2 separate regions of the Homo sapiens genome follow, and region 2 is linked to region 1. The links come from fine-mapping of genetic effects on gene expression. A gene starts in region 1. The other region holds a variant in brackets. All regions are shown on one strand. Distances are between the middles of the regions. Region 1 holds the start of PCNX1 (pecanex 1). Region 2 has its middle 25 kb from the start of PCNX1.

What was found.
Region 2: its variant is fine-mapped to the expression of PCNX1 in whole blood (INTERVAL, PIP above 0.99).

Annotation. Positions count from the first base shown.
Region 1 is chr14:70,898,559-70,915,303 of GRCh38, reverse strand. PCNX1 (pecanex 1) reads right to left here and starts at 7,845. Exons shown (of 36, transcript NM_014982.3): 1 at 7,301-7,845. The coding sequence starts at 7,453. RefSeq lists silencers at 6,693-7,032, 7,193-7,532, 7,753-7,942.
Region 2 is chr14:70,874,118-70,890,862 of GRCh38, reverse strand. No RefSeq gene overlaps it. Among named protein-coding and RNA genes, the nearest start is that of PCNX1, 25 kb to the left of the region's middle. RefSeq lists an enhancer at 3,250-3,559. The variant C/T (reference allele first, on the strand shown) is at 7,886.

The DNA.
Region 1 (16,745 bases):
AAAGAGAAAAGGGTTTTGAGATTCCGTAAAGTTTTCCAGTGTCTTTGAGTTCTGATAAAACCTATCCTCATGTTGGCATCTTTACATATAGTAGCCAAAAACTGGGAAGAGCCTAGCTGCTCATCTACACGGGAATGGATAAAGGTGAGCAAACTGTAGCACAGTCATACAAAGGAATATTACTCAGCAATAAAAAGGAAAAAAGCTACTGATACAACACCATGGATTAATCTCAACCACGTTATGCTGAGTGAAGGTGGCTTACACAAAGCATGTGCTACATGATTCCATTTATATGAAATTCTAGAACAGGATAACCTAATTTATAATGAAAAAAAGTCAGAACAAGGATGAGAGGACTGACTCAGAAGGTCAAGCAGAAACTATCTGGAGTGACGCTGATATTCTACAACATGCCAAGTCTACACTACGCAAACGTGTGCATTTATCAAAACTCATCGAATGGTTCACTGAAGATTGTGCCTTTAGAACCTACCTGACAATGCACCTGCTGAAGAGTTTAGGGGTGATTTGTATAGAAGTGTAACTTAATTTACATGCATCTCCCTAAAAAAGGGTGGACAGATAGAGGAATAAAACAGATAGAGACACAATATTTAAAAACACAGAATCCAGGTGGTGGGTACAATTTTCTCAACTTTCCTATATGTTTGAAAATTCTTTAATAAAATGTTGAAAGATTTAACTCTCAGTAAAGTCAGCTAGAGAAAGCAAATTACCTGACTGAATCTGTGTATTCAAAGGCTAGAAAAAAAATAGAAACTTTCCTAGTTTTCCAATCACCAAATGATTTTATGATTTGGAGTAATTTTCAAGTGGGAGAAAACACTCCACCTTTACGTCACAAAAGACAGAACATTTTATAAATCAACTGCTTTTTTTGTAAATTAATACACTTTTCTACAAATTGACAAATATGGCTGCTTTCTTGGAGGTCTAATTTTCTTTTCCTTTAGATTCAGCAAGGTACATGTGCAGGTTTGTCACATAGGCATATTAAGTGATGCTGAGGTTTGGCTTCTAATGATCCTGTCACCCAAGTAGTGAACACAGTAGCCAATGTATAGCTTTTCAACCCTCGCCCCCTACCCGCTTTTGGAATCCCCAGTATTTATTGTTCCCTTCTTTGTATCTGTGGGTATCCAAATGTTTAACTCCCACTTATAAGTGAGAACATGTGGTAGATGGTTTTCTGTGTAAACCATCTTTGGACAGTGTACCCTTAATTTATTATAGGTAATATAATACATAAGAGTTATATCTGTGCCATGACCAGTTATGGAAATAATTAGACTCACTTTGATCCTAAATATTGAAAATACTGGTAAAGGGCACAGGCTAATAGATCTAAACAGGCCATCCACTAGTCATTAACCTTCCCCTAAAGGATGCAGAAAATAATACTTAAAAATCATATGTACAATATGCAATAGCAATATAAATTGCTAATTTATAGCACAGTAACTTTTCTAGCTTGATCTAAACTTTTAGAGAAATATAAATTTTAAAATATGAAAATCCCTGTTTTAGTCACCCTAACTAAATCTTGTTTAAAATGATCTTTAAATACTTTTAAATTGGGGGAAAGAAAATGACCTGAGAGCTTTAGCGTAATCCTCACTAATAAAAGATATATCATTCTAAAGATGACAAAGATCAGTTACAGAAAACAATGAAGACAACTAGGAAGAAAATGTTGAAACCTTTATAAATTTTGTTAATGATTTAGAGTCTGAATATAATCTCTCCACAGATTTATGTGGTATATATTACTGTATATATCATGTATGTATGTATAACCACACAGCTGTATGCACAAAAAGCCATACGTACTGCACTTTCAATGACTTAAGTGTTTTTCAAGGGTCATTTTGTATTTGATTTTTCAGTAATTTTATATTTGATTTTTGTCTTGTAGAGACTGACACCGAACCTAACCCCTAAGTAAGCAGCTCCACCATATGATACAGCCTACCACAATCCTCCCTCCACCTCCAACTATTCTACATCAGTTAACAAGTCTAAAAAAGCTTCACATGTATAATAAAAAATTCATTCAACAAATACTTCTTCAGATCCTAATATGAGCCAGGCAGTCATGCAGACACTTGATAAACACTGATGAGTAAATCAGACCTGGCCCCTGCCCTCATGGAACTTACAAGGTATGGAAGTGGAGGATGATCGAGAGGACAAACAAGTAAACAAACAAAAAATATATGTTTGTGTTAAGTGCTATGGAAGAAAGTTATGGAATGGAATGATGAAAAAAAAGAGAGGGAACCTATTTATGGTTATCAGGCTCAGCCTCTGTGAGGGGATAATACTGAAGTCCAGCCCTAAAGATTAAGTAGCAGCCAGCCTTGCAAAGAGCAAGAAGGAAGAGTATCCTTTCAGAAGGCACAACACGTGCAAAGGTCTCACAGGAGGAAAAGGCTCAGTGGGCTAAAGTAACAGAAAGGCCAGTGTGACTACAGCACAGTGGGAAAACTGCACAAACTGTAAACAAAGGCAGAATAAGCTCTGGTGGCTTAATAAAGATTCTGGATTTTTTTCTAAGTGCCAAAGAAAATCTTTAAAGAATATTTAAAAGAATGACACAGATTTATGTCTTTTCCTCTGAGCAGAAAGTGGTAAGATTTGCTCAAAAGCAAGGGGTGGGGGATAAGCAACTAGATACAGACAGTGCCATTAACTAACATGACAGAGTGAGGAAAAACATTTTGTGGCAGTGTTGTTTAGGGGGGAATTCAGAAGCTTTTGGGCATGATACTTTTGGGATGCCTGTGAGACAGCCAAGAGGTACGTTGAGTAGCAGCTGGATGTCAGTCAGGGGCTGGTAGTTAGGAATATTGATCAAGTTATTTAAACTTACCTAGAATGTTTATAAAATACAAATCAATAGGCCACACTCCAGATCTACCGAATAAGAAAGGGCTTGCACATCATTAACATTGTCAAGTGATTCTGATGTCAACTGGAGGAGTCTGGGAACCACTTACGTAATAAATTTTAACGTTCTTTTTTTTCTTTTTTCTTTTTTTTTTTGAGACAGAGTCTCGCTCTGTCGCCCAGGCTGGAGTGCAGTGGCACAATCTTGGCTCACTGCAAGCTCTGCCTCCCAGGTTCACAACAGTCTCCTGCCTCAGCCTCCCGAGTAGCTGGGACTACAGGCGCCCGCCACCATGCCCGGCTAATTTTTTGTTTTTTTAGTAGAGACGGGGTTTCACCGTGTTAGCCAGGATGGTCTGGATCTCCTGACCTCGTGATGATCTGCCTGCCTCGGCCTCCCAAAGTGCGTGAGCCACCGCGCCCAGCCATAAATTTTAATGTTCTATTTCATCACCTAGGGATATATTGCTTTACAGAGGAAAACAATATATTGAGCAATATGTTATGAAAATGATTTGACTTAATAATCCAGAGCTATTTAGTCTCCTACAGTCATACAGCATTATAGAGGAAACACTTCCAATTAGCCATTTTTTCAAATGACATTTACTGAAGGCCATTCTGAAGGTAAATAATTTCTTCTATTTCATAAATATTTTCTTGAAAAACACCCATGAAATATCTCACAAATGAGTAAATCAAGGTTCAGAAAGGTGGAGTCTTGCCCACAGGACACACAATCAATAACAAAGCCAAGATTCAAAAATCAAGACACTAATTCCAATCTGCTTTCCACCATACAAAAATGCCACTCACCCCCAAAAATCTCATCATCTGTGACATGTACAAAAATCACTGTAACTAGATAAAAAAGAATGAGTACCTTAAAGGAAACAGACAGGACAATCAGAATTAAGAAACAAAAATTTTTTCTTCATTTTCACTACTTAAAAGATTTTTAACTAGTTGATGTATATAGAGTCCACCTTTCAAAGTATCCACAAATGCTCCTAAATAAACACCAAAAGTGTTTGAATCCTATAAAGTCCTAAGACTGTTTCCTAACTTAATGTACGATCTCTCCACAGATTTAGGCACTTTTTGGGGGGGAATAAATAAAAGGCAGCCTGTACAGTGACTTTGCCTTCAGAAAGCTCTGTGTAAATCCCAGCTCACAACTTGCCTACTAACAGCAAAACCTCATGAGGTCACGGGGTTAAAGAACCTATACATGTACTTTTAAAACAGTCATTATCACTTACAGTTATTATTGTAAGAGCATGCAAATAATAACCTATGGCTGTCTGAGATTTTAACACAAAATGTTGGATTTTGCTTTATTTTTGGTGTATACTTCAAACTATCTACCTTTTACTAGTATGTTTCCTAAAATGTTTACAAATTCTCTGTCCTGACCACCCCTGGTCTAGGGTTCATCCCCTGACTATAAGATCAGGGTCCCTCTTTACTTACCCTTTCCTAGCAGTTCTAACAGTAACAACTCATTACCCCCAGGCTAGATTTTAAGTTCCTTGAAAGCAGAAGCTGTGTCTTGTGCACTTCTCAATCATTCATCGGAGTACTACATGTGCTTTACACTAATCTAGGTCCTAAAAATACAGCAGTGAACGAAACTAAGTTCCTGCCCTCTCAGAGCTTATATTCTAATAAGATAAGAAAGACATAAAAACAAATAAATAGATATCAGTTAGGAATAAATACCATACTATTTTAAAAGGTGGGCTATGGAGTCTTGTGAGAGCTGGGGAAGTTGCTATTTCACATAGGCTATCAGAGAAAGCCTCACGTATATGAGAACCTGCAAAAAGTGGAGCAGCCACACAGGTATCTGGAAAAGAGGAGTCATCCAGACAGAGGGAAAAGCAAGCACAAAGGCGCTGAAGCAGGAACATACTTCTTGGCAAGAAGAGTAAGGCGGCAAATGTGTGTGTGGTTGAGACAAGAGAGACACAGGAGAGGGCAGGCCCTGAGAGCAGAAGAATGACATGATCTGAAAGAATCACAGAGGCGTCTGTGTGGAGAATAAAGAACAAAAGCATTGAACCTCATTAAAGTACTGCAATAATCCAGGAGAGAGAATGGTGACGAACCAAGGGAATGATGATGGCCTGATGGCCGTGATGATGATGGTGCTGGTGAGAGGAGGAGGAGGAGGAGGAGGACGAGGAGGAGGAGGAGGAGGAGGAGGAGGAGGAGGAGGAGGAGGAGGAGGAGGGGGAGGAGGGGGAGGGGGAGGAGGAGGAGGGGGAGGAGGAGGAGGGGGAGGAGGAGGGGGAGGAGGAGGAGGAGGAGGAGGAGGAGGAGGGGGAGGAGGAGGAGGAGGAGGAGGAGGAGGAGGGAGGAGTCGTCGTCTAGTTAGGTTTTGAAGATACAGCCCCTATTGCTCATAAGCAATAAGTGGCTGAGAACTCTAAAACCAGCAGTCATGCTAACCGCATGTACTGAACTTTGGAAGTTCATTTCTCAAGGCTCTCCATCTTATTATCCATTTCAGGTAAAGGTCTGAACTGATTAAGAACAGCTCAGCACCTTCTGGTTTGGGAAGAGTGGGACTGCCATTAATTGAGATAAGGAAGTCAGAAGCAATCTCAGAAAGTGTCTAGTACATGGTAGACACTCAAATATGTGAGAATTCAGTTTAACTGAACTCCCAAAATGAAGGAAGTAAACTCAATGTCCTGGTTTCCATTTGCTCTAATATTCTTTCAGTAACATTTGCTAACTACACAAAGAGACTTAACCATGACCACACAGTTTACTACAAGTGTTAAAAAAGAAATCTTACACTGGACCCAGCAACTAATCCTTACCTCTCAAAAATCATTTTCAGTTTTAAATCTACAATTCTTCTGGACATAGAAGAAATTTGCTTTGAAAATTTTGTGACAGCCTGAGGATTCTTAAACCCAAAGTAATTAACCCGTTCATTAATGATGTCATATTCCTGGAAGGTATAGTAGTGCAAATAGAACTCCCTAGGCCAAAATTAATTGAAAATTATAATACTTCACGATAAATTTTCAGAATGCAACAAGACTGAACAAGTCCCCCTAATAAAACAAGCCACAAGCCATCAGCATTTCTTAATGGCTTTTTTTTTTAACCTCAAACAATAAGTCCCTTCAAAACAATTTCAACGAAAAATGTGAATCTGCTTGAGAATGTGCACATCTTCCCTCAAGCAGACACTTTTCCTGCCAATTAGTGAAACTGAACTTCACTTAGGGAAGAATTGGGTGTCCTCACCTTTTGCACTTCTCATAGTGGTCCTCCGGGATTTTCTAACTCAGCACCCTGTCTCTAGCTCCACAAAGAACCTCAAAGTTAGCAGAAATACATTCAAAGGAATTCTCCTAAAATAAAAAGTTCAGATCCTTTCCTCCCCTCTGACTACTTTAAAATTTTATATGAAGCCTTAAGTAACATCTCTGTCCACACGAGTTTCCCTAACGCCCCACCCTAACCTGTGCTTTAGAAACTGCGCTTAACAACTTTCAATGTTGCTTTAAAAACACAGATGATTCAGAGAAGCTGATCGCACCGAATTCAGCAACAGGCAGTACTCTCTCTCCCTACTCCTATCCGCCAAAGGCCTTGAACCAAGCCAAACAAATCTGCTGAAATGCCAGCCAGATTCCCCGTTATCTCCCCGCTCCCTCCCCCCAGGGAGGCCAGGAAGCACCACGGCCACCGGCCACGGGGCCGAACAGAGAAGAACCGCTGCGAAGCACAACAACGGTTTTTTAGAGGCAGGAGGGTTCCGAGCCGGGTTTTCAGCCACCACCCAGGACCCCTGGAGGACGAGCCCGGACGACCCCCACACACACTCGGAGCAGAGCCGCACGGTCCCCCGCGCTCCCGGGGCTCCGCACGCGGATTAGCGGCGAGGCGGCGGGCGGCCTCTCCCGGGAGCCCCGGACGAGGGCCGCGGCGGGGGCGGGCAGTGCCGGATGCCGGGCGCCCGAGGAACCCAGCGTGCCAAGGATGGATGCGGCGTCCCCTAAAGCCGCAGAGCGCTCGGCGCCTGCCACACAGCCCCACGGGCGGGGGGCCCCGGCGGGGACGGCCTAGCCGAGTGGCCGCAGGAGGGAACCCCGAGAAGGGGCCTAGGACGCTGCCGCTTCCCAGTGAGCGGGCGGGGGCGGCCGGCGCGGGTTGCCGTGGGCTCGTTGCTCGTGTCACCTCCGAAACCAGGAAAGCCCCGAAGAGAGGAGTGGGAGCACGCAGTGGGGGCGGGGAGCCTCACACCGAGAGGGTGGCGGCCCCCGGGGGACGAGACCCCGTGGAAGAGGAAGAGGGCGCGACCCCAGCATCTCCCCACCGGCTCGCGGGGAAGGAGCCACCCGCTCCCCGCCCCCACACTCACCATGTAGAGGGTGAAGGGCAGGCCCAGCAGAAAGAGCCACAGGTAGAGGTGCAGCGCGTTCACGAAGGTGGCCTGGTGCGGGTCGTAGTACCAGCCCCCGCTGAGCGCGGCCCACACCCCCTGTCGGAGGATCTGCAGCGTCTGCGACCCCATCCCCACCCGGCGCCGCCGCCGTCGCCGCCGCCGCCGCCGCCGTCCCCGCCCCGGCCCCAGCTCGGCCTCGGTCGCCGGAGCCTGCAGCTGCCCCGTCTATCCACCTCCGGAGCTCCGGGTGAGCGAGCCGGCGCTTCGGCGGTCGCTGGTGCTGCTGCAGGAGGAGGAGGAGGCAGCAAACGAGGAGGAGGAGACCCGAGAGGAGGAGGCGGCGAGCGGCGGGGCGGAGGACGGCGGAGAGGAGGAGACCGGCCTTCTGAGAGCCGCCGCCATCTTGTCTCCTAACACCCGGAGCCGCGGCCCGGCCCCCGCCACCCGCGGCCCGCCAGCGCCCCCACTGCCGCCGCCGCGACCCCCGCCGGCCGCCAGCCCTGGGCCAGGCAGAGAAAGAGGCCCGGCGCCAGGGAGCGACCGAGAGGAAGCCGCGCCCCCTCCAGCTCCTCCTCTCCGCTCCCTCCGCCCCCTGGGCCGGCTACGGTGCGCGCCGCGCCTGGTCCGCCGCGGGCGCCTCCTGCCGACGTCCGGGAGAAGCGCGCGTCAACGCGGCCGGGGTTCAGGGCCCCGGGGGCTGCGGAGGTGGCTGAGACGCGGCTGGCTGGTCCGGAGGACCCCATTCTGCCCCTGGTAGGCCCCCTGGCAAGTTCGCCTACGAGTCTCTAAACGGGGTCTTTCTGACTCCGAAACTAACAGATCTTGACTCCAGAAAAGCGTCCTGCCTGTCATTTATGATATTTGTGAAAGACCTAGGAACAACTGAAGCTAACACCTGAGATACTGAAGGCCTGGAAGAGTTAGGTACGGCTGATGACACTGTTGAAAAGTCATAAACGCACCCAAGTTGAGCAAGAACTGTGTTGGCCCGTGTGTGAGAAAAAATAGCCACGTCCAGACTGGGAGAATTTACTACTTCCAAAGACAAGTTAATAGAAGCGGCACAGGACATGGAAGTATGGAGTGGACAGGTTACCATTTGTACGCGGTGATTGTATTTTTAAATGTGCTGTAACTAGCAGCCATTTTTATTAATGGGCCAATCTAAACAGGGTTGAAAAAGATTAACCGTGACGCCACCCCAAATTACAATAGGGTCTTGTAGATCTCTTTTTATAGCTGTAAAAACGGAATCATTCTTGGCTCTGTGTAATGTTTATAAGGCGTGTCTGATCTCACTGAATAAAATTTTATAGAAAAGTTTGAAATTTGAGTTTATTGAAGTTTGGCTTTTATGGCAATAAAAGTACTGTGTATTCCCAGATTACAGTTGCTATAATTAATGAGGGAAACAAGAGCCAAAGGAAACTGGTGATATTTTAAGAAGAGTAATGAAAAACCGTTACAATACCTCCCAGTGCCATACCACTTTATAGTTGCTCAGACACTATCACACCCATTCCATTCAGACCTCAGGACAACCCTTTGAGGGCAGCATAGCAGCTATTGTTATTTTATGGATGAGAAAACCTGTAAACTCAAGTAAGTGATTGGCCAAATGCTTATGGCCACTTATTGCTCATAAGCAATAAGTGGTTGAGAACTCTAAAACCAGCAGTCATGCTAACTGCATGCACTGAACTTTGGAAGTTCATTTCTCAAGGCTCTCCACCTTATTATCCATTTCAGGTAAAAGTTTGAATTGATTAAGAACAGTTCAGCACCTTCTGGTTATCTGTGACCAGCTTAAATACATGACCAGTTTTCGTCAAAGTGCAAATTCTTAGGGCATCATTCTATAGACACTCTGTGGGGTGGTACCCAGCAATCTGTTTTAACAAGTCCTCCGGAGGATTCTAATGTAGCTTACCACTGTAGAACACCACACCATCCCTAGCCTTGATTTGTTTATGTCCTTATAACCACAAAGCCACTGAGTTCCAGTAAGATACCTTGAAATTGAGAGCTGTGAGTAAACACTGGACAAAATATACTTTAAAATATATTTGTATATCTAAAAGCAAAATTATGATTAAATAATGCAATTTTACAATTAAAATAGTGGCCTTGAAGCTGGTGTCATAGATACCAGCTATTGTCAAGTTTTCATTTGTTTCCCCTAAAGGAGACAGGAAAGCTCTCTGGGAAGGTTTTGGAAGTAATCCCAACCTTTCCAACACAAAGAAAGATGTAAACAAGGATAAAATTCCAATACCACATCAGTTTCCACAACAGCAAAGATCCGCTATGGTTTAATATAAAAGGATTAACTGTAATGAGGGTGAGGTGGATGGGGAGAAATGGAAACTAGAACCAGATACATCCGTGGAATCGGAGGCCAACCCAGCTGGCGTGATAAACGTTCAGCCAGAATGCAGTATCTGGAGGATATGGAACCGGCAGCAGGCCAGGAAGGCAGCCGGCATCAGGCCTGTTAAACAGAGAATGTGGGTGTTGTAAGCCAATGGACAGCTGGAACACATAGCCTTGGAAAATCCAGGAGTGGGCAAAAATTGGGAAATCACGGCAAGCCTTGAGAAAGTGTGTTGCTTATAGCAAGGCCCCAGCTTCAGTGCTGGGGTTTTCTAGGTCTGCCCTTTCGTTTCTACAGGGAATTGATGAAAACAAATAGAACTCAGATCCTTGAGCTACTGAGATACTCACTGGAGGCCCAAGTTTGAGGACCCAGCAGGACAAAACAAATATTCAAAGGCTGGATCTGGGGGGACAGAGTGAGACTTACAAACAAAGCAGGAGCCTAATACCTAGAACTAGGACCAAACTTCACACTGAGCATGGTTGCCTTATGTTGAAGTCCCAGAGTGTTAATATAAAGCTCTAGTTGCCCTCCAAAATGACTGGGATTGATCCCAGAACCTGAGGTGTGAGTCACATGGCAATAGCCATTGGGTGAAAAGGGGTTAGCAGGATTGGCAGGCCCAGAGAGTAGAAACAGCAGTTAGAGACTACATCTTTCAGCTCTGGACTGGTAGGAGCATTTTAGAAAAATACTAATTAACTGACTTAGGGAGTAGCAATTGAGAGTATCCAGTGAAAAAGCTGACCTTTCCAAATGACTGACTCAGTCATTGGGACGGGGTGGATGGGGGGGAATGAGGGGGCGGGGAGAAAGACAATCCTACAGCGCTCTCTGTAGCTCTCAAAATGTTTGTGAATACTGCCTGCCACAACAAGCTTCCTATTTTATAAACTAGAAGCTAAGGCAGAGAGAGGTTAAATGGTTTACTCAAGGTAGCACACTCCATCATGCCCATAAAATATAACAGCAGGACAAAAATCCAGGGAACTAATTTTGCTAAGTGTTAACCCTCTTAGCCATGCATAGAAGCCATTAATAATGTTACACTTAGCATGTCAAAGTTAGCAGCCATGACATACTACCAAATCACCATTTGACATTTGCTCATCTCTCAGCTAATCCTATTAAAATTATATTTTCTGACTAGCTCATAGGCCTCCTGGGGACTGAGAGTACTCGACAGCAGATGCTGTCTCCTGCCTGAAAAGGACAAAGCTGAATGTACGAAATCTAATAACCCCACCCAAGCCCACCTTGGAGCAGAGTCATGCAAACTGCAGCTCTGATCCATTTTTGTGTGGCAATTATCTGTTTTAGACATTATGGCCCACATGTCCTGCCAATGATCCAGACGCAGTAAGTATCCATGTCTTCCCCCAGTCCTGCGCCTCTTCTTTGTCTTCGTGAAACCAACATTTTCCAGCTCACTCAGACTTGGAACCTCATATATCCTTCCCCAGTGTCTAGTCTCCACAGGCTTTCTCCTGCTCAACCCTTCCCTTACGTTGCCAGATCAACCGTTCTGGAGAATCCCCTCATCAAGTCGTACCCAGCAGTCTGCTATTACCACCAATTTCTCCTCTTCTAAACCATTCTACCTTCCACTAACAAATTAATCTCCCTAATCCACTTTTCTTAAAAGCCTTTAATTCCCTTCAGGACTAAAGGGATACTCCTTAGCCGGGCAAAGACCCCAGCAACCTGAATCACTATTTTCTCCAACTTAACTGCCGCTACTCCCCAGCATGAACCCTTTTTATTGGTGAATATCAGTATAACTATTTATGTTTATCAGCCCACTCATTTATTAATTTCTGCCTCTGTGCTTTTACTGACACCATTTGCCTTACTTAGAAAACATTACCCCTCCACCTGCCTGCTAAAATCCACTACGTCTACTCCAAACCCATTCTTCTATTTTTTGAACAGCCTAGAGCACTCACATGTTCCACTCATTTAGCGTTTAATTATGTGCTACTTCAAATCCCTCCATCTAAACTGTACATTCCTTGAGGGCAAGGCACTTCTCAGCATGTTCCACAGGGCCTAGCAGAGAAAGCTGTTAGCATCAATTAACACTCAGTTCATATACATTGATTAAACAAAGCACAGAAACCAATGGCTTTCCAATTAGAGATTTTAATCTGTTTTTTCTTTTTTTCTTTTCTTTTTTTTTTTTTTGAGATGGAGTCTTGCTCTTGTTGCCCAGGCTGGAGTGCAATGGCGCAATCTCGACTCACTGCAACCTCCACTTCCCGGGTTCAAGCGATTCTCCTGCCTCAGCCTCCTGAATAGCTGGGATTACAGGCACGCGCCACCACGCCCAGCTAATTTTTGTATTTTTAGTAGAGACAGGGTTTCACCATGTTGACTAGGCTGGTCTTGAACTTCTGACCTCAGGTGATCCACCCGCCTCGGCCTCCCAAAGTGCTAGGATTATAGGCGTGAGCTACCGTGCCCGGCCTAATCTGTTTCATCATTCATTTGGTAATTCTTCAACATTTCAAAGCATTTCACCAGCTTAGAATAGCAGTTCAAGGAAGGAAAAAATAATATGAAATGAAGGTGAAGAGAATTTGGAAGAGAAGGCTGGGCGTGGTGACTCACACCTATAATCCCAACACTTTGGAAAGCCTAGCTGAGAAGATCACTTGAGCCCAGGAGTACGAGACCAGCCTGGGCAACATGGCGAAACCCCATCTCTACAAAAAATACAAAAATTAGCTGGGCATGGTGGCGCAAGCTTGTGGTCTCAGCTACGCAGGATGCTAAAGCAGGAGGATCACCTGAGCCTGGGAGGTCAAGGATGCAGTGAGCTGTGATTGCACACTCCAGCTTCAGTGACAGACTTAGACCCTGTCACAAAAAAAAAAAAAAAAAAAAAGGAAAGAAAAGAAAAAAAAGAAGTGCCCCAGAATTCTTCTGTGGATCTCTTTTAGCCATTTGCTGTGTACTGCTTTAGATCACATCAGGAAAATAAATATCAAATGGAAACTTCCCAAATCTCACATAATATAATTATAAAATACCATCATCTGGATATGAAGCTAAACAAGTGAAAATAAAAGACTTTCTTACTAACTAGGAGATGATTCTTCTTGGAAATCTCAACCCAATCTCCTTTTTTTAAATGTCAACTCCATATGAGTAATTTAAAATATGTTTTTAGTGACACCAACTACTTTAGTAATTCTTGTTATGGTTTTGTGTCATCCTGAGAGTGTCTTCTGTCATGTCTCAAAAAACCAATTCACTTTTCTTAAACTTACCACACTTTGGGAGCAGGGCAATGAAAGGAAAGGGAAAGCATGCAAGATACTGCGAAACTCCCCAGATATTGTGAATCCCTAAATTAAAAATAATATACACATGAATTGTTTTTCATCTTTTGACATTAAAAGATTCTTCTATGTCAGTCTGATGTCTAATGTGCTTCACTATATCATATGAAAGAGCTTGTTTATCTTTTTTTTTTTTTTTTTGAGACAGGTTCTCACTCCGTCACCTAGGCTGGAGTGCAGTGGCGCGATCTCAACTCTGCAACCTCCGCCTCCTGGGTTCAAATGATTCTCACGTCTCAGACTCCTGAGTAGCTGGGACTACAGGAGAGCACCACTACGCCCAGCTAATTTTTGTATTTTTTGGTGGAGACGGGGTTTCACCATGTTGGCCAGGGTGGCCTCAAACTCCTGACCTCAAGTGATCTGCCTGCCTCAGCCTCTCAAGGTGGTGGGATTATAGGCGTGAGCCAGTGCTCCCAGCCTTGTTTATCTTTCTATTTCAGCTGGGGTAGCATAATTCCAACAGGACCTACTAGGCCAACTGATGTGGCTGGATGATTCTCTGAAGAGTTCACCCCCTGTATTAGTAGCTACCAGTGTCATCCAGAGCGCCTCCCTGTAGCTAAGTAGAAGTGAGAGTTGTCACCTTTGGAGGCCAGATGTCTGGCTCCTCTGGCAAGGAACACCAGGAACATTCCTTGGTGAGAAGGTGGTGTTCATAATGGAAAGGGCCTGGGGGCTGGAATCAGATGAATCTGTGTTTTAATCCACCTTCTGCTACTTTCTAAATTAGTCCTAGCCCCTAGTCAAGGAATCCGAGCAGAATTGAAGAGTCCTGGGGAATTCAAGGTTGCAGACTCATTGCATTTCATTTTGATGGCTGGAGCTTTTTTCTAATGACAAAAATAACATTCCAATGACATCATAAAAAGATCTTTCCCTTGGAGATTTTTCACTGCTTTCTTTATGGAAACCTTGACAGCACATGGGAACATATTTCTTATTAGTTTTTTTTTTTGTCTGTTTGGGGTTTTTGATTTTTAGCTGGGTTTTTGTTTTGTTTTGCCTCACCTACTGTCACCAGGATTCAGTGGCTGTTAATATACATAAGTATTTTCTAATTATGTACAAATAATATGTTTTGTATATACATCATAGGAGGGTGATACATATCAGTATAAAATCTCTCAAATCAGTAAAGATCAGGACACAAAGTAAAACCTCCCTGTTCCTCCAGTTTTCTTGCTCCGTTTCTCTCAACATTTCCTTCCTGTAAACTCATTATATTTTTAGGTCCTATGACAAGTGTTTCTCAATGTGTATATAGTCCATGAATGACCCCAAGTCAAAATCTTCTATTAAACACAGAATCCCAGCCAGGTGCGGTGGCTCACGCCTGTAATCCCAGCACTTTGGGAGGCCAAGACGGGCGGATCACGAGGTCAGGAGATTGAGACTATCCTGGCTAACACGGTGAAACCCCATCTCTATTAAAAATACAAAAAATTAGCTGGGCATAGTGGCACATGCCTGTAGTCCCAGCTACTCGGGAGACTGAGGCAGGAGAATGGCATGAACCCAGGAGGCGGAGCTTGCAGTGAGCCGAGATCGTGCCACTGCACTCCAGCCTGGGTGACAGAGCAAGACTCCATCTCAAAAAAAAAAAAAAAAAAAAACATAATCCTAGAGCCAGGTGCCATGGTGCACGCTGATATTCCAGCTACTTGGGAGGTTGAGACGGCATGATCACTTGAGCCCAGGAAGGTGAGACCAGCCGAGGCAACATAATGAGACAATATCTCCAAAAACAAAGAAACAAACATATAATCTAAGTTATGGTGCTTTATACATAGGGTACTGAAAAACTCCCTCAGTGTTGGGTATCTCTGAAATAAAGAATTAGTATAAACATCTATTGTTTTCTATCTTTTGATATTAAAAGATAGAATTCCAAGCAGCCAATAGAATACTGAAGTATCTTTTAATGAACTAATAAGGATTGATCTTTAAAATATATGGTGAAGTGGCTGGGTGCCGTGGCTCACGCCTGTAATCCTAGCACTCTGGGAGGCTGAGGCAGGCAGATCGCTTGAGCTCAGGAGTTCAAGACCAGCCTGGACAACATGGTGAAACCACATCCCTACCAAAAAAAAAAAAATACAAAAAATTAGCTGGGTGTCATGGTGCATGCCTGCAGTCCCAGCTACCTGGGTGGCTGAGGTGCAAGGATCATGTGAGCCCAAGAGGTCCAGACTGCAGTGAGCTGAGATCATGCCACTGCACCCAAGCCTGGGTGACAAAGTGAGATCCTGTCTCAAAAAAAAAAAAAAAAAAAAAAAAATATATATATATATATATATATATATATGTGGAAAAAAGTATATAACAGCACTTGTCATAAGAGAAAAGAATGTATTTTATGTGATTATCTGTGTACTGAATGTCCCTAGCAGAACATGTGAGAAAATGGCAGCAGGAATTGCCACAGGGGTGAGAGACCTTACTTTTGATTGTATATCTTTTCTCTTAATGAATTTTACATTATGCACATGTTATCCTTTTTTTTTTTTCTTTTGAGACACAGTCTCACCCTGTCACCCAGGCTGGAGTGCAGTGTCAGACCCCTCAATCTCCGCCTCCTGGGTTCAAGCCATTCTTGTGCCTCAGCCTCTCGAGTAGCTGGGGTTACAGGCAGGCACCACCACACCCAGCTAATTTTAGTAGAATCAGGGTTTCACCATGTTGGCCAGCCTGGTCTCAAACTCCTGACCTCAAATGATCTGGCCACCTTGGCCTCCCAAAGTACTGGGATTACAGGCCTGAGCCACTGCTCGTGGCCTGTGTTACCAATTTTTAAAAAGTAATAACCTGGTGGAGAAAGCCGATTCCTATCTTGTACCCAAGACTTGCTAAATTGAAATCTCTCACATGGAGCCTGGAGACGTGCATTTTTAACAAGCTTCTTTATTCTTCTGCAAACTGGTATTGAGAAGCACTGTCCTTGGCCTTTCCTTTTTAAACACTTCTTTCCTCTTTTTTTCCTCTGAACTTCCTACCATCACCACCACCACCTCTTCTCCTCCCTCATTTCCTCATCCATGGTGGATCTCATAGTTTTGCAATTCAATCATTCCACAGCTAGTGATTTTTCACTCTTTTCTCCCCAACCTTGCCATCGGCCAAAACCATGGCACTGGATGGATTTGCTTTCTCTGCCACCAGCATGCAGGCTAGCACTTTCCAGGTTGTGACCCTAACTGTTACCTGGAGTCCTCCTGGCAGTTCTCCAGTTCTCACTCAGCACTTCTTGTGTCTTTATTAATGACTTTTAAAATCTCACCAACGTCTTTCATACAACCCACACCACCCTCTCTCCCACAGAAAACATAGAGGGTATCAGACAGTAATTCCTCAGTTTCCTGCCCCCCCAACTTATAAATTTATTCATATGTACAGTCATCCTTTGTTTTCTTTTTTCCTTTTAAGGTGTTGTTCTGCCTAAGAAAATGGCTTCACCTGTGCTCTCCACCCCACCACCTAAACCCTACTGGGTTTGTTAACCTTGGTCCCTCAGGTACCACCAGCTTTTCCTTTCTGCTGGCACTTTCCTCCAGCCCAGAAACAGGCACTCTTATCCTCAGGGCTACTTCCTCCTCTCCCTCACAGCCAACTTTCTTAAGAGTGAAACAGTGTCTTTCACCTGCCTTGACCTTCGCTGTCATCCCTGCTTCTGCCCACATCATCAATGATTTCCTAGTTG
Region 2 (16,745 bases), 24 kb after region 1:
AGGCTCAACTATTCCTGTTGGGGTAAAAATGATGAGAAAAATATCTCAGGATATTTCTGACTCTCTTCTCTCCACCCCCATGAACATCTCCCACCCCCAGGGCCCCAATTCTGCTTTTCTTCACTTAAAAAACTTCAAGCCAGGCCAGGTGCAGCGGCTAATGCCTGTAATCCCAACATTTTGAGAGGTTCAGGTGGGCAGATCCCTTGGGCTCAGGAGTTCGAGACCAGCCTGGGCAACATGGCAAAACCCTGTCTCTACAAAAAATATAAAAAATGAACTGGGCATGGTGGTGTGCATCTGCAATCCCAGCTGGGGCTACCCAGGAGGCTGAGGCGGGAGGATCAACTGATCTTGAGAGGTCAAGGCTGCAGTGAACCGTGATTACACCACTGCATTACAGCTTGGGCGATGGAGTGAAACCCTGTCTCAGAAAAAATTTAAACCCTCAAATCATCCCTCTTCGGTGAAGCCTTCCTTGACCTCTCCAGCACTTACTAATTTTTATTTTTCTTAATACCTATGACTTGTACATAACACAGTAAATGGACACAGTAGACATATTTCTGTCTCATGTGTGCTGACCTTTTCTTCTCAAATAGATTATAAACACTTTGAGGACGGGACTCATTTTAAACTTCTTGAAATCATCTGCCAAATTCTGTGATTTGGTGATTAGCCCGGCTAGGATCAACTTAGGCCCTAGAGTATCTCTATAGTTGGGGAGAATGTAAAAAGCTTTAGAGGTACTAAAAACGCAAAAATGAAAAGCAGAGTATGAGTTTCTCAGCATGATAGCATCAAATCAGCCTTGCTACTGGACCTACACAAACCTTTTCTTTGATTCTAGTAGCCAGTCTTATTCCTGAAGATCAAGTCCCTAACAGCCTGTCCGTAGGTCCCTTTTCAGTGACTCTTGTTGATATCTCATTTGTTCTAGATTGTGCGCTTTCTCTTGCTAATCCTTTAAAAAAAAAAAAGAAACCCAAATCCTGCCTCTGAACCTCACCCTCGAAGGTGCAGTCCCTGCTACCCACTATCCTGAGCAGCCCCTTTGGATTTCATGACTGCCCAGACCTCTGTAGTGCGTGGGCTGTGCTCCACCCACCTGTAGTTAATCTCACACCCTACCTGGCACTGGCTGGCCAGTCTGCTTCTTTGGTCTGCCTCTTTCTGCCAAGATCTTCTGGAAACGCCTGCCTTGCTCCTGGGCTCCTGGCTGGTCCCCGCATCCTTTCCATTTTGCCATCAACTAAGCCATCATTCTCAGATTTAAGAAAAAGAATTCCCCTCAATATTAAAGACACAGCAGACACATACACGTGCAAATACCCATAGTCATAAGTTCCTTTATCATTGAGAAAATTTTTACTACCTTCCTAAATTTATATTCTCCCTTTTCAGGCATTTAGCATCATCTCTAGGTCTTCCAATGTTATGCTTGGAATTTTCTTTAAATAAAAGTGGCCCTTAGAGGTCATTTACTCCAACCTTCTTATTTTACTCCTGGTCTCTACTACCCTACCTTTACGCATCTATTTAGAAGCTAGTGGCACAGGATTTTTGCTAATGATGCCTTTATTGAGGGATTTTCTTTGTCTGTTAGTAAATTACCATGATGCTAGAAGATTTTACAGAAAGTCTCAACTTAGTAATCAGCTACCATCAAAATACATTTATCTATTATTAAGGTAAGACAATTTCCTTCTCAGCCCCAGAAGGGAGGCACATGCACACAAGTATGCACACACACACACACTCACAATGTGATCAGCCAGCTCTCTGTCTGGAAAAATCAAAATACCTCCCAGCTGGAATGACAGCATCATTTTATTAACGCTGAAATAGGAGGGTGATAAAGCAAGTCTCAGCAGGCATAGCAGAAATGCACTGCTTTTATGATTCATATTTCAAAAATGATGCCATGGGAGCAAAAATGCAAAGCAGAGCTTATTATATGCTAGCAAAAATGGAGTGAAGGGTAGTCACCTCAGCTGTGCCTTTTAAGCTCTAAAGGAAGCAACACCACTACCAATTTTCTCTCCTCACCCTGAGGTTGCAACAGACACTTGGATTTGTCTACAGCCATTACTTCATTGTTCTCTGTGCTGTGAGTGGGCTAAGAAAATGATGTTGTTTCCTGTGTGATGATCTTGCTAGAGCTTTGGAGGTACTAAGGAGAATTGCAAAGAAACAGAATCATTAGTACAGTCATCCTTCATCCCTAGTTGTGGGGGGTGGGGAGAAATTGCTTCCAGGACTCCAGGATACCAAAATCTGGGGGATGCTTAAGTCCCTAATATAAAATGATGTAGTACTTGTATGTAACCTATGCACATCCTCCCATAGTTTAAATCATCTTTAGATTACTTATAATATCTAATACAATGTAAATGCTATGTAAATATGTGTTACACTGTATTATTTTTATTTTTATTGTGTATTATTATTATTTTTTTAGTGTTTTTCACCCTCAGTTGGTTGAGTCTGTATATACAGAACCTGTGGATATGGAGGGCCAGCTATATTGTCCTCCGTAGCGCCACCTCTTGATGAGGGGCTGTTGTTGGCCCCTGCAATAGACTGAATGTCTGTCCTCCCCAGATTTATATGTTGAAACCTAATTCTCCTCATGATGGTATTTGGAGGTGAGACTTTTGGGAGGCGATGAGATGTAGCCCTCATGTATGGGATTAGCACCCTTTTAAAAGAGATCCCAGAGAGGTCCTTTGTCCCTTCTGCCATGTGAAGACAGCCATCTATGAACCAGGTAACAGGCTCTCACCAGACACAAAATCTGCTGGCACCTTGATTTTGGACTTCCAAGCCACCAGAACTGTGAGAAATACATTTCTGTGGTTTATGAGCCATTCAGTGTATAGTATTTTGTTATAGCAGCCCAGATGAACAACACAACTATGCTTTCCAAACCCAGAATCCACAGGGTATGTGTGCTGCTTCTCTCTCTGCTTTGCTTGGGGAGAAAGGAATATAAAGGACCCCTGGGAATCCCTTCCCCTGGAGGTTTCCAGCTGCCTGCTTTTGACTTTGACTTCTCTTCTCTCACATGCAAGTAAAGAAAACAATACTGGGTTAACATTTTCTAAGCTGTACAACCTTAGGACAGTGCCATTGGAAGGAAAATAGGCTAGAAATCAGAAAAGATGGGCTTGATTCCAAAGATTTCAGTCAGATCTTTGACGTCAAGATATCACAAACCCTCCTTCTTCAAAGTGCAGGCACTGTCTGTTGGCTCACATCATCCGTGAGCACTTAGAGTTCCTTGAGTAAGAAGTACTGCCTTCTATAAACATCTCTGCATCTGGAGACTTATTCCTGGACATTGCTAATGAGTCAGTGAAAAACCCCAAATGATCTATGTATCAATTCCTGTTTTACACTTTCAGTTTATACAATAAATGAGAAAAAGGGCTAAGCTCAATTTGCTGGAAGTTGACAGTCCATTTTTATTTTGAAATCATTGTTGGTAATTTCATACCAAAGGAGAGGCTTACAGCAAGAGAGTAGAAATGAAAGCAGAAATGAGAAAGCTTATATAGTCTCAATTTCGATGACTCTAAAAACATTGATCAATCAACAATGCAGCTCATCCAGGAAAACCAAAACACTTTGTGGTAGGCAGAATTCTAAGCCCCTAAGGTTTCCTGCCTCTGGGATCTGTGAGCCTTCTCCCACTTACTCAATCAAACAGCAACCTAGATTCTGCTGTGAAGGGATTTTGCAGATGTAATTAAGGTCCCAAGATAGGGAGATTGTCTGGGTGGGCTTGATCTAATAGCACGAGCCCTTTAACTCTGAGTCTGGAGGTCAAAGACAGAAAAAAATCAAAGAGGTTTGAAGCATGAGAAGAATTCAACAAAGGGGAGATTCTCTATTGCTGACTATGAAGATAAAAGGACCAAGTGGTAAGAAATGCGGCAGTTTCTAGGAACTGAGAGTGGCCCCCAGCTGACAGCCAGCCAGGAAACAGGGACCTCAGTCCCCCAACCGCAAGAAACTGAATCTGTGACAACCAGAATGAGCTTCCACAAGGCCCTTGAGCTCCAGATAAGAACACTGCCCAGCTGACATCTTGATTTAGCCCTGTGAGGAGATCAGTGGAGTCACACCCTTCCCAGTTCTGGGGGAAAACCTGTAAAGTAATGAATGGGGAGTTGTTTTAAGGGGATAAATTTATGATGATTTAGTATGCAGCATAGAACTAAAATCCACACTTCCTGAATGGTTTTAAAGCCTCTTAGCCTAACCCTAAGACCAAAACCCAACCTCCTTCAAAGAGAAACCTGCCAACCACTGTGAACCAAATCTATCAGACAAGTCTCTTGTGATTCAAATTATAACCCACGGCCCGACAGCATACATGTGGCCTAAGAAATGCAGCATCTCAGGTCCCATCTGGATCTACTGAATCAAAACCTTCATTTTAACAAATCGCCTGGTGACTTATATACACATTAAAGTGTGAGAAGCACCAGTTAGCATTTTAATGCAGAGCTGGAGATCTGGAATCAGCAAAACCCATGTTCCCAAGCTGGCTCTACAGTTTTACTAGCTATGCGGACTTAGACAAGTTACTTAACCTCTCTGAACTTCTATTAATCGGTAAAATGGAGCAGGTAATAGTACTGACTTTATAGAGTTGTGGTGAGGATTAAATGGGACAGTATGTAAAGTGCTTTAGCCCTGCATTTTGGCCTGTCGTTAGCCTGGCAAACAGTAAGGGCTTAATAAATTGTTGCTTATTATTGGATTGGGCAGTAATAGCATCAATTGAATGTAGAGGGAGCAGGTAAACTGTATCAGTTGGAAACTTGCAGGATCACTGTGGCTGGCATCCTCTGATTAAATATGTTGTCACGCAGCTCCTCAGAGACTGCAAAAGGTTGTGACCTTGGTTTTCTACCTAACACAAGGCTGGGTCAGCCATGCCATTCCATCCCAATGCCTGTAACCATCTGTGTATCCCCCGACCCTCTCCCTTGTCGGTATTTAACCTCACTGGGCTTGACCTCACTTAGCTAATGAGATCTGGCCAGAAACCATGGAGATGGTTGTCAGCAACTCGGGGCAGGTGGTATCCCTGAATACCAATGGCAGCTCAATCCACAGAAAAGATGAAGAGATGTGCCAGGGGCAAAACACAGCCTGTTGAACTGTTTTAACAGAAATCTAAGGTTCTTCTTATTTTTGTTGGAGGGAATGATGGCAATGGTGACAATGGTGTTGGCATTACTGAGTATAAGAATGAATGTATAAATCAACAGTGACAAATGAGTAATACATAAGCCAGAGAGCTTTTGTGATCAATTCTGCAGAGGCCCGTTCCCCCTCCTGGTGGTTTCTCTGTTCTTGGCAAAGACTCCTCTCACTTGCTTTATTTCTCAGCCTGAGCCACAGCAATCTCTATAGTTCAATATAAATAATGAGGGTGATATTGATAATAACAATAGCTCTCATTTATTGAGTGCTCCAAGTGCCAGGCACTCTTCATATATTATTTATACTCCTTATAACAACTCTTTGAGGTAGACATTATTATGTTCCTTTTTAGCCAAGGAAACAGAAGCCTCAGAGAGGTTAAGTGGCTTGCCCAAGTTTACACAGCAGATAAGATAGTCTTGGATTCAAACCTGAGTCTGTTTGACTCTGAAACCTGTGCTTTCTTCGCTTTATCTCCGCAATACAGCTGTCATCCTTGACTGGGCTCTTGGCCCTTTGCCTGGACACTGTATCTGGGCCTTCGATACTACTGCCCAGTCAGCTCCTGAGCTGCCTTGCTCCTGTCCTTCCAGGTTTGCACCGCTTTGGCTTCTGTCTTTGCTCAGATGCTCACCTGTCTGGCCCCTGGAAACATATGGCGCTCACCTATTTCTTGTCGGTCCACATGGTTCTGCCCGTGGGTTTTCTAATCTCACTGCTCATAAGCAAGCTTGCTGGGCCTGACTCATGAAGGAGTGGCTTGATGCTCCCAGACTCTGGGTAACTGTCCCTCATTCTAGACCCTCCTGCCTCATAAGTAGAGTCTCCCCTATCATCCAGCCTGGCTCACCATTGCAGAAGAATGTTTCCTGCCTGTGTCAGAGAAACCAGCCACCTGGGTTCTTCTATCTGCTCCTGCTGTGCTCTGTCTTGAATACTCTTCCTTTCTTTCAAAACCACATTCTATTGCTCAGCTCATACCTGACTCAAAACCCAACCTACTGCCCACAGACTAAGATCTCGACCTGGAATTATATCCTATTACTATCTGGCCTCACTGACCCTTTCAAGTTCCAACCTTATTTTCCAGCCAATTGTTTCCCATCCTTTCTCTGTGATTTTCTGCTCGGCCTTTTCTCCTGCTCTTCTCTGCCAGGAATGCTCATTTCCTCTGTGCTAGTTCAGGATCATCCAAGATCTAGCATAAAATCCATCTTCTTTACAAAAAATGGCCCTAACCTTCCCAGCTGGAAATGGTCTCTTCCTTTCATTGATCTACTGTGGCACTGTATCTAGTGACACCTAACAGTTTTCTACATTTTGCCGTAGTTAATTGTATACATATTTTTTCTCCCCTTTTACACTATAAGGTCTCTGAGAACAGAGAGCATCTGATTTTTTTTTTCTTTTTTCTTTTTTGAGACAGAGTGTCACTCTGTCGCCAGGCTGGAGTGCAGTGGCACAATCTCGGCTCACTGCCTCCTGGGTTCAAGCAATTCTCCTGCCCCAGCCTCCCGAATAGCTGGGACTACAGGTGCACGGCACCAAGCCCAGCTAATTTTTGTATTTTTAGTAGAGACGGGGTTTCACCATATTGGTCAGGCTTGTCTCGAGCTCCTGACCTCAGGTGATCCACCCACCTCGGCCTCCCAAAGTGGTGGGATTATAAGCGTGAGCCACCGCGCCCGGCCTATTTTTTCCTTTTTGATGGCCTTACAGTGCCTAGCAAAATGCCTTGCTCAGAGTAAGTGCTTGATATAAATTTATTAATCCATCAGCTGGATGGATGGATGGATGGATGGATGGATGGATGGATAGATGGATGGATGAATGGATGGATGGGAAGGAGGTTATAGGAATTGAGACTCTGGCTGAGCTTTTTTAGCCAGGTAGCCATGGCAGGAGAAAGGCTTCACCTTTCATGAGAGCGTATGGTCATAATCACAGAAGGGAAAGAATAGCTTGAACCATAGCTTGAACCAGTTAACCATGCTGCCAATAAAATCAGGCCACATGTGTTTACCATGTTTTATGTTTACCAGGCTGCATCAGTAGGATACTTTAAAATATGGGACAGAAATCCTGACTCAACCTCAAACTAGCTTTTATCATAAAGAAATGTATTGGCTCCAATGCAGGATGTCAAAGGCTGGGTAGGATTCAGGACTGGTGGATCCAGTGGCTCTTTGCATCTCTCTGCTGTGCTATCCCCAATGCTGACTTCATTCTGGGGAAAGATCCCTGGGTTTTGGAAGGCTTCCAGTAGTTGCTGGGTTAATTGCTTCCCTTTTCACCTCCTACTAACTTCCTGTGACTCTTTCTTAAGGGTAAGAAAGCATATTTTCCGGAAGTGTTTAGAAAACTCTTTATGACTCATTGGTCCCAATTGGCCTTGGCCTGCCTACCCCAGACCCATTCACTAGCAACGGGGATGGGGGTGGGGTTCACATCACTCAGGACCCACCCTAGAGCTGCAGTAGAACCTGTGATGGAGAGTCACTCCAACACCCCTTACACAGCAGACAGTTTTATGGGGGCCACTCCAATGAAAGGTTGGCTCTTAGGACCTTCTCATTTTAGACACGCAGTAAACAATGAAAAACATGTCATCCAAGAGATCTCATTGTCACGGATCTTACAATATATCTCTTGCCTAAGAGTCTTC[C/T]GGTGTTTCTTGTGCAAATCCAGCGGTTAGTCAACAGGGTTTATGGAACACATGCTGTTTAGATAGTGTTACTCTAAGCACTGTACAAAGTTAGAAAAACAAGACAATGCAGCTACTTAAAAAAAATTTTTTTTAGAGACAAGGTCTTGCTCTGTTGCCCAGGTTAGCTTCAAACTCCTGGGCTCAAGCAATCCTCCTACATCAGCCTCCTTAGTCACTGGGATTATAGGCGTGTGCTGCACTGCCTGGCTTATTTTTTTTTTAACAGTAGAATGAGCATTGAGGAAAGTAGTTCTCTTCTGTTAATTCTGCTCCGTTATTTTCCAGAGTGTAGAAACTGCTTGATTTCCTTCCTCCTTTCTTTGTCCCCTCTTATTCAGCTCTCTCTTTCCTGTCACTAATTTTCTCCTTTCTTATTCTTTCCTCATTTCAGGAAAGCAACATAGCGGAGATTAGGAGTGTAGAATCTGGAGTTAGATTTCTTGGGTGGGAATTCTCACTTTGAGTTCTAGCTGTGACTTTCCAGCCGTTACTTCATTTCTCTAAGCTTCTTTTCACTGGTAAATCATGTCTAAACATTATGCCTACCTCCTTGGGTTATTCTCGAATTTTAAAAATGATGCACATTAAAAATGATTACTAATGGTTAATGATTTTAATTTTCTTCTTCATCTTTTTTTAATTATGCCACATTTTGTGTCCTGTTCCTCCCTCCTACATCCCACAGTGATAGGCTGATAGAAAATAGTCAGAAATAGAGTGCACAGAATCAACTTCCTAGTGAGAAATGGAATGGAACCATTTCAGTTCCTTCTCTTTTCTTCATTATACTTCGAGTATTTAAAGAGTGCTATGTGAATACATTTAAGGCAATGGAAATGTACAAAACCAGTTGAGAGGAACACATATGTGGTACATATGGAAGCGGAAGTATGAATGCTCTGTTCTGCATAAGAATCCCCCAGCTCTCAGTTGCTTCATCGAGGCCTGGTTTGTTCAATTGGTTAGAGCACCTTCTGATGTAACCAAGATCACGGTTTCAATTCCAGAATGTGGTGAGCCTACTTTATCTATTTGATGGCTACAGCCTCCTCTGCTGAACCTGGCAACCATCTGTAAATGCATCCATTGTTTAGAAAATGATCAATCAGAGGAGCCCGGTTGAAGCAATGCAAATCAATCACCTTACTAGGAAACAACACGACAACAGAAAGTACATGCTATCATGGTGGTGGGTTAACTGTATGATGTTTGTACATGAAGAAGGCATAGACCATGACATCATTATAGAGTTCATGGAAAACAAATAGGTTTGAAGCTATAGGTTCCACAGCAATTCACAGCCTATAAAAAAGATTACTGCTACGTCCCTTGTTTTTAAGGCCCCCAGCTCTTCTTAGAGACCATTTAGAGAATAACTGCCTGTTCCTCTAGACTAGACTCAATTGCTAGAAGTATCTCATATGGGAAGACTTTCCTGACATCTTGTTCTCCTCTTCTCAACTTAATTTCTCTCCAACCTCCACCCCTTCTAGAATTATGTGCTCTCTTTACTATGCTCCTTTTATGTCACATAATGATGGTTACTATCTAAGTCAGCTTAGGCTGCCATAGCATAACATGTTATGGCACTGGGTGACATAATACCCAGTCTATGTTATGGATTGGGTGGCTTAAACAACAAAAATTTATTTTCTGACATGTCTGGAGGCTGGAAGTATGAGTATCAAGGTCCCAGCACGGTCAGGTTCCTGTAAGGACTCTCTCCTTGGCTTGTAGATGGCTGCCTTCCCTCTGTGTCCTCACATGGTGGAGAGAGAGAGAGAGAGAGAGAGAGAGAGAGAGAGGGAGAGAGAGAGAGAGAGAGAGAGAGAGAGACTGCAAGCTGTCTGCTATCTCCTCTCATAAGGGTACTAATCCCATTATGAGGACTAATATGGTTTGGATGTTTGTGCCATCCCAATCTCTTGTTGAAATGTGATTCTCAGTGTTGGATGTGGGGCCTGGTGGGAGGTGATTGGATCATGGGGGTGGATCCCTCATGAATGGCTTAGCACCATCCCCTTGATGATAAGTAAGCTCTTGCTCTGAGTTCATGTGATATCTGGTCATTTAAAAGTGGATGGAGGCTAGGTGCGGTGGCTCACACCTATAATCCCAGCACTTTGGGAGGCCGAGGCAGGCAGATCACAAGGTCAGGAGTTCAAGACCAGCCTGGCCAATATGATGAAACCCCGTCTCTACTAAAAATACAAAAATTAGCCAGGGATGGTGGCGGGTGCCTGTAGTCCCAGCTACTCAGGAGGCTGAGACAGGAGAATCACTTGAACCGGGGAGGCAGAGCTTGCAGTGAGCTGAGATCGCGCCACTGTACTCCAGCCTGGGTGACAGAGCGAGACTCCATCTCAAAATGATAATAATAACAATAATAATAAGTGAAAGTGTATGGCACTGTCCTCCTCTCTCTTGCTCCCACTCCCACCATGTGATGTGCCGGCTCCTCTTCCTTTCTGCCATGATTTTAACTTCCTGAGGCCCTCACCAGAAGCAAATGCCAGCTCCATGCTTCCTATACAGCCTGCGGAATGGTAAGCCAAATAAGCCAAATACCCCTCTTTTCTTTATAAATTATCCACAACTTCATGTATTTCTTTATGGCCACACAAGAATGGCCTCGTACAAGAACCTATCTGGTAACCTCATCTAAACCTAATTCCTTCCCAGAGGCCCCATCTCCAAATACTATCGCATTGTGGGCTTGGGTTTCAATGTATGAATTTGGGGGGACACAATTCAGTACATAACAGTTACAATTCTTTTTGCAGCAATGCATGTTACTTTGATATGAGTGATATCCATGTAACACGGAAGACACACTGATGCATACATGATTTTCCTAGCAACTTAATATCAGGGTAAGCTTTTCTACATTTGCAGAAAAAGCCTTAGCCATATATGAATACCTTCAGAACAGACTGAAATTGATAGTGCAAGTTCTGCTTGGTTTAATGGCTTTGAGTATTGCTGCCCTTTCCACCAGTTAAACTATTCGGGGAAACTAAGAGTATAATGATGGAGTTGTGAAAACATTTCCCTCTATAGATACATTGAACAAAAGAAAGAGGCTACGCCATGGATCATTCAAAAATTTTTGAAGAAAATTATCTAGATGCTGTTAAATGAAGTTTGGCCTAAAGCTGCCTCTGTATATATTTTAAGTCTGGCCTAAAGGTTTCTCCATACACAGTGAACTGTAACCTAATTTGATGCATAAACAGACTGGTAACTGAGTCTCAGCCAATCACAGCAGCCAAATTTCAGTTAACCACAGGCAGCCAACTGTTCAAACCAGGTTCAAATAAGGCAAAGGCCCCAGCTGTAGCCAATCCAGCCGTTTCTGTACCTCCCTTATGCTTTCTACAGGTCAATTTCCTTTTTCTGTCCATAAATGTTACCTAATAAATGTGGCATAAATGTGGCAGCCCTGGAGTCACTCTGAGTCTGTTTGTGTTTTGGGGACTGTTGGATTCAAGAATCTTTCTTTACTCAATTAAACTGTGTTAAATTTAATTTGCCTAAAGCTTTTCTTTTAACCAATGGCATCAGAAGCAGGATCCAAAGTAGAAAATTAGCTGGGTGTGGGAGCACGTGTCTGTAGTCCTAGCTACTAGGGAGGCTGAGGTGGGAGGATCACCTGAGCCCAGGAGTTCGAGGCTATAGTGAGCCGTGATTACACCACTGCACTCCAGCCTGGGCAACAGAATGAGACCCTGTCTCAAAACAAGAAATAAACAAACAAAAAAACCCCAAAAATGCCCACAAAGTAGAGCTTCTAATGACCCCCAGGAGGATGGAGCGACCAAGCAAGGTGCCTGCTGGGCCCACTGTGTCCACTGCTCTCTTGCAGCAACTGGGGATCCTGGACAAATTCGCTCTTAGATTCTGAAGTGCCACAAATTTGTGTTTTGAGCTATCTGAGTTTGAGCAAATTTTTTAACTGGATTCGGTTCAGAAGTCACAACAAAAACTGGACTCAGTCCAGAAGTCACAACAAAAACTGGACTCGGTCCAGGATCGAATCAGATTCGATAATTAAGTGGATTGGATCAAGTTAGAGGCCTCAGCTGTCTCGCTGGGTCAGGCGGAAACGGGTGGTAAATGGCAATTAGTGCAGGGGGTGCGAACTCCAGCTTTTGGGAATTTGCAGAGATTTTGTGTTCTATCTCCTTTGTTCCTTTTTCTTACACACTTGGGTAGGGAAAAATCATTGGCTGACTTGGCCAAGAGGATCTTAGAGCCAAAGCCAGGAATCAACATAAAAATGAGATCCTTAATTTTTGAAGAACTGAGTCCTCCACTTTCCCAGTATGCCTGCCTTTATGTATAGTATATAAGTATTAGGCACCGGAAGCAGCAAATGCTTACAAAAATGGAGAAATCTTACTAAAGATGATTTAAAATTATGGTGGAACATTCAAATGAACAACATTGTACTTTAAGAAGTGCATTTAAAAATGGGGGCTCCTGAATTAGGTTCACCAGGGATGCCTATTGATGTGCAGAAGCTTCTAAAAAAAATTTCAAAATTTGTATTGCCTCTTTTTTTAAAATTTTTTTATTTTTTTTATTTTTTTTGAGACAGAGTCTCCCTCTGTTGCCCAGGCCGGAGCGCAGTGGCGCCATCTCGGCTCACTGCAAGCTCCGCCTCCCGGGTTCACGCCATTCTCCTGCCTCAGCCTCCCGAGTAGCTGGGACTACAGGCGCCTGCCACCACGCCCGGCTAATTTTTTGTATTTTTGGTAGAGACGGGGTTTCTTCACCGTGTTAGCCAGAATGGTCTTGATCTCCTGACCTCGTGATCTGCCCGCCTCGGCCTCCCAAAGTGCTGGGATTACAGGCGTGAGCCACCGCGCCGGCCTTATTGCCTCTTTTAAAGGCTCTTTACAAAAGACAAATAAAGATTTTAAATGACTAATTGATAAGGGAAATAGAATCTGCTAACATTTTGGCTTAGTTACTATCCTGCCCCAAGGTGGAAAGAAAGCCGAATAAAGTGCTTATAAAAGGTAGGCCCTCAGGTAAAGTAGGCTTGTTTCTCTTTTTCAAAGCTATCCATGCTGAGTCCAGGCATAGAGAACGCTTTCTCTGTCCTCTTCATTAATGGGCTCCACTATATTTATTTATTTATTTTTTATTTTTATTTATTATTATTATTATACTTTAAGTTCTAGGGTACATGTGCACAATGTGCAGGTTTGTTACATATGTATACATGTGCCATGTTGGTGTGCTGCACCCATTAACTTGTCATTTACATTAGGTATATCTCCTAATGCTATCCCTCCCCCCTACCCCCACGCCACAACAGGCCCCGGTGTGTGATGTTCCCCTTCCTGTGTCCAAGTGTTCTCATTGTTCAATTCCCACCTATGAGTGAGAACATGTGGTGTTTGTTTTTTTTGTCCTTGCGATAGTTTGCTGAGAATGATGGTTTCCAGCTTCATCCATGTCCCTACAAAGGACATGAACTCATCCTTTTTTATGGCTGCATAGTATTCCATGGTGTACATGTGCCACATTTTCTTAATCCAGTCTATCATTGATGGACATTTGGATTGGTTCCAAGTCTTTGCTATTGTAAATAGTGCTGCAATAAACATACGTGTGTATGTGTCTTTATAGCAGCATGATTTATAATCCTTTGGGTATATACCCAGTAATGGGATGGCTGGGTCAAATGGTATTTCTAGTTCTAGATCCTTGAGGAATCGCCACACTGTCTTCCACAATGGTTGAACTAGTTTACAGTCCCACCAACAGTGTAAAAGTGTTCCTATTTCTCCACATCCTCTCCAGCACCTGTTGTTTCCTGACTTTTTAATGATTGCCATTCTAACTGGTGTGAGCTCCACTTTAAACTCAGTAATTTAGCTAAGAAACAGAAGCTAGGCCAGGCGCCGTGGCTCATGCCTGTAATCCCAGCACTTTGGGAGGCCGAGGTGGGCAAATCACGAGGTCAGGAGATGGAGACCATTCTGGCCAACATGGTGAAACTCTGTCTCTACTAAAATACAAAAAAATTTGCCCGGCATGGTGGCATGTGCCTGTAGTCCCAGCTACTTGGGAGGCTGAGGCAGGGAAATTGCTTGAACCCAGGAGGCAGAGGTTGCACTGAGCCGAGATCGCACCACTGCACTCCAGCCTGGCAACAGAGCAAGACTCTGTCTCAAAAAAAGAGAAAAGAAACAGAAGCTAAGTTAAAAAGACTACCTATTGAACTAAATCAGTCTTTGCAATATACCTTTCTGGCATTTAGCTGGCTATTTTGAAACGCTTTTATTAAAGAAAATTACATCTGTGAAAGAAATCTCTATTTGTAAGGGTGTCTACCTCTGTGCAACACAAAGAGACAGAGGGCTAAGCCCCTGGAAACTCTTTAAATTGAAAAGGCATTGATTTAAATTTATATAACAAGCCTTATCATTTAAGATGCTTTTCCTGGTCATCTTGTCTTAACTGGACCTTTACCTATACCCTCCTTCCTTGGTTTGGGCAAATGGTGGTATTTAGGCCTGAAGTAGGAAATGGTTTGGGGGAAAGATGAATGGGCCCTTAGAAAAATTAATCATGGTTTGTGTGACAAGGTCTGTCTTGGTGTGATGAAACCTTCTCTCCTGTGATAATAGTTAATCTTCCCTGGTTTCTGGAACTTCCTAGGGGAGAGTGTCAGAGGCATTTGAACCAGAGCAACTCCATCTGAATAGGGGCTGGGTAAAATGAGGTCTTGAATAGGGGCTGGGTAAAATGAGGCTGAAACCTACTGGGCTGCATTCCCAGACAGTTAAGGCATTCTAAGTCACAGGATGAGATAGGAGGTCGGCACAAGGTACAACTCATAAAGATCTTGCTGATAAAACAGGTTACAGTAAAGAAGCCGGCCAAAACCCACCAAAATCGAGATGGTGATGAGAGTGACGTCTGGTTGTCCTCACTGCTACACTCCCACCAGCGCCATGACGGTTTAAAAATGCCATGGCAACATCAGGAAGTTACCCTATATGGTCTAAAAAGGGGAGGCATGAATAATCCACCCCTTGTTTAGCATATAAACAAGAAATAACCATAAAACCATGCATTTCTATGGAATAGCCATTCTTTTGTTCCTTTGTTTCCCTAATAAACTTGCTTTCACCTTATTGACTTGCCCTGAATTCTTTCTTGCACGAGATCCAAGAACCCTCTTTTGGGGTCTGGATCAGGACCCCTTTCCTGTAACAACAGGATTGATGGCATTTGGATTCCTTTGGAAAATCTGTCTTTAGACAAACAAGGAGAATTTTTAAAGCCTTGCTCTGAGTACCTGTTAGCAGCAATAGTATACAAAAGCAACATATTTTGGGGTCATATCTTCCGAACTTCTGAAACCGCCTTTGCCAAAATCATACCTGAGGAAATTATGACAGTGAAAGAGATCAGACCTAACTGACTCCATCTTGCTTTCAACCTTTAAGTTGTCCTTGTTCATTCCTGGGCGTAGGCTGAACTAACCTTCAGAAGGAATTTAGTTTATAGTTTAACTCTGAAACAAAATTGATAATAGCCCTTTTCCAAAAAAAAAAAAAAAAAAACCCTTCTTGTCTGGGGACCGGTCTGCCTTTATAGGACTAACAAATTAGCTACAAGATTAGAAATTGTGGTTTAGTGACCACACAGCCTCCAGCTGCAAGATTCTTAACCTCCCAAAATTGCTCCTGGGGAAAATATAACTATTGGAAAACCTAAGATCAATGCTTGAGATATTTTGCAGACCCTGCACTCCATGGATCAACTGACTCCACCCAGACTGGTAATCTGGTTCCACCAATTCTATGATCCCATCCAGGAACAGAAGACAACAAGCAAGAAAACTCACTTGACTCCTCTATGATTCCATCTCCAACCTGACCAATCAGCACTCCCTACTTCCCGAGCCCCTACCCGCCAAATTATTTTTAAAAACTCTGATTCCCAAATGCTCGAGGAGACTGATTTGAGTAATAATAAAACTCCATCTCCCGCACAGCCGGCTCTACATGAATTACTCTTTCTCCATTCTAATTCCCCTGTCTTGATAAATTAGCTCTGTCTAGGCAGCTGGCAATGTGAACCTGTTGAGCAGTTATACTTCTTCAATGGCTAGTTTTGTTTAATAAGTAATTCAAGCATAATTGTAAAGAATGAGTAAATAAGGTGAATGTAAATGGCATCAAAATTTATAAATAAATTTATCATAGTTTCCAAAATCTTTTTCAGCAACTTCAAATTTTAAAATCATGTTAAATTAAGTAATTGAAAATTACTTTATTTTCAATTCATTTTAAATTCAATAAAATACTGAAACATTAATTATTAAGCATAGCTTTAGTTTATATACTTCAACATCTTGTTTTTAATACAGTATATAGAAGTTAAATATATTTGGATCTATTAAGAAACATAAAAATCTGGCTGGGCGTGGTGGCTCATGCCTGTAATCCCAGCACTTTGGGAGGCCAAGGCGGGCAGATCACCTGAGGTCAGGAGTTTGAGACCAACCTGGCCAACATGGCGAAACGCCATCTCTACTAAAAATACAAAAATTAGGCGGGCATGGTGGTGTGCGCCTGCAATTCCAGCTACTTGGGAGGCGGAGACAGGAGAATTGCTTGAACCCAGGAGGCAGAAGTTGCAGTGAGCTGAGATCATGCCACCGCACTCCAGCCTGGATGACAGAGCAAGACTCTATCTCAAAATAAATAAATGGATAAATAAATAAGAAGAAACATAAAAAATTGAGGAAACATTTCTTTCTAAAAATTAGGAAATGGCTTTCATCTACAAA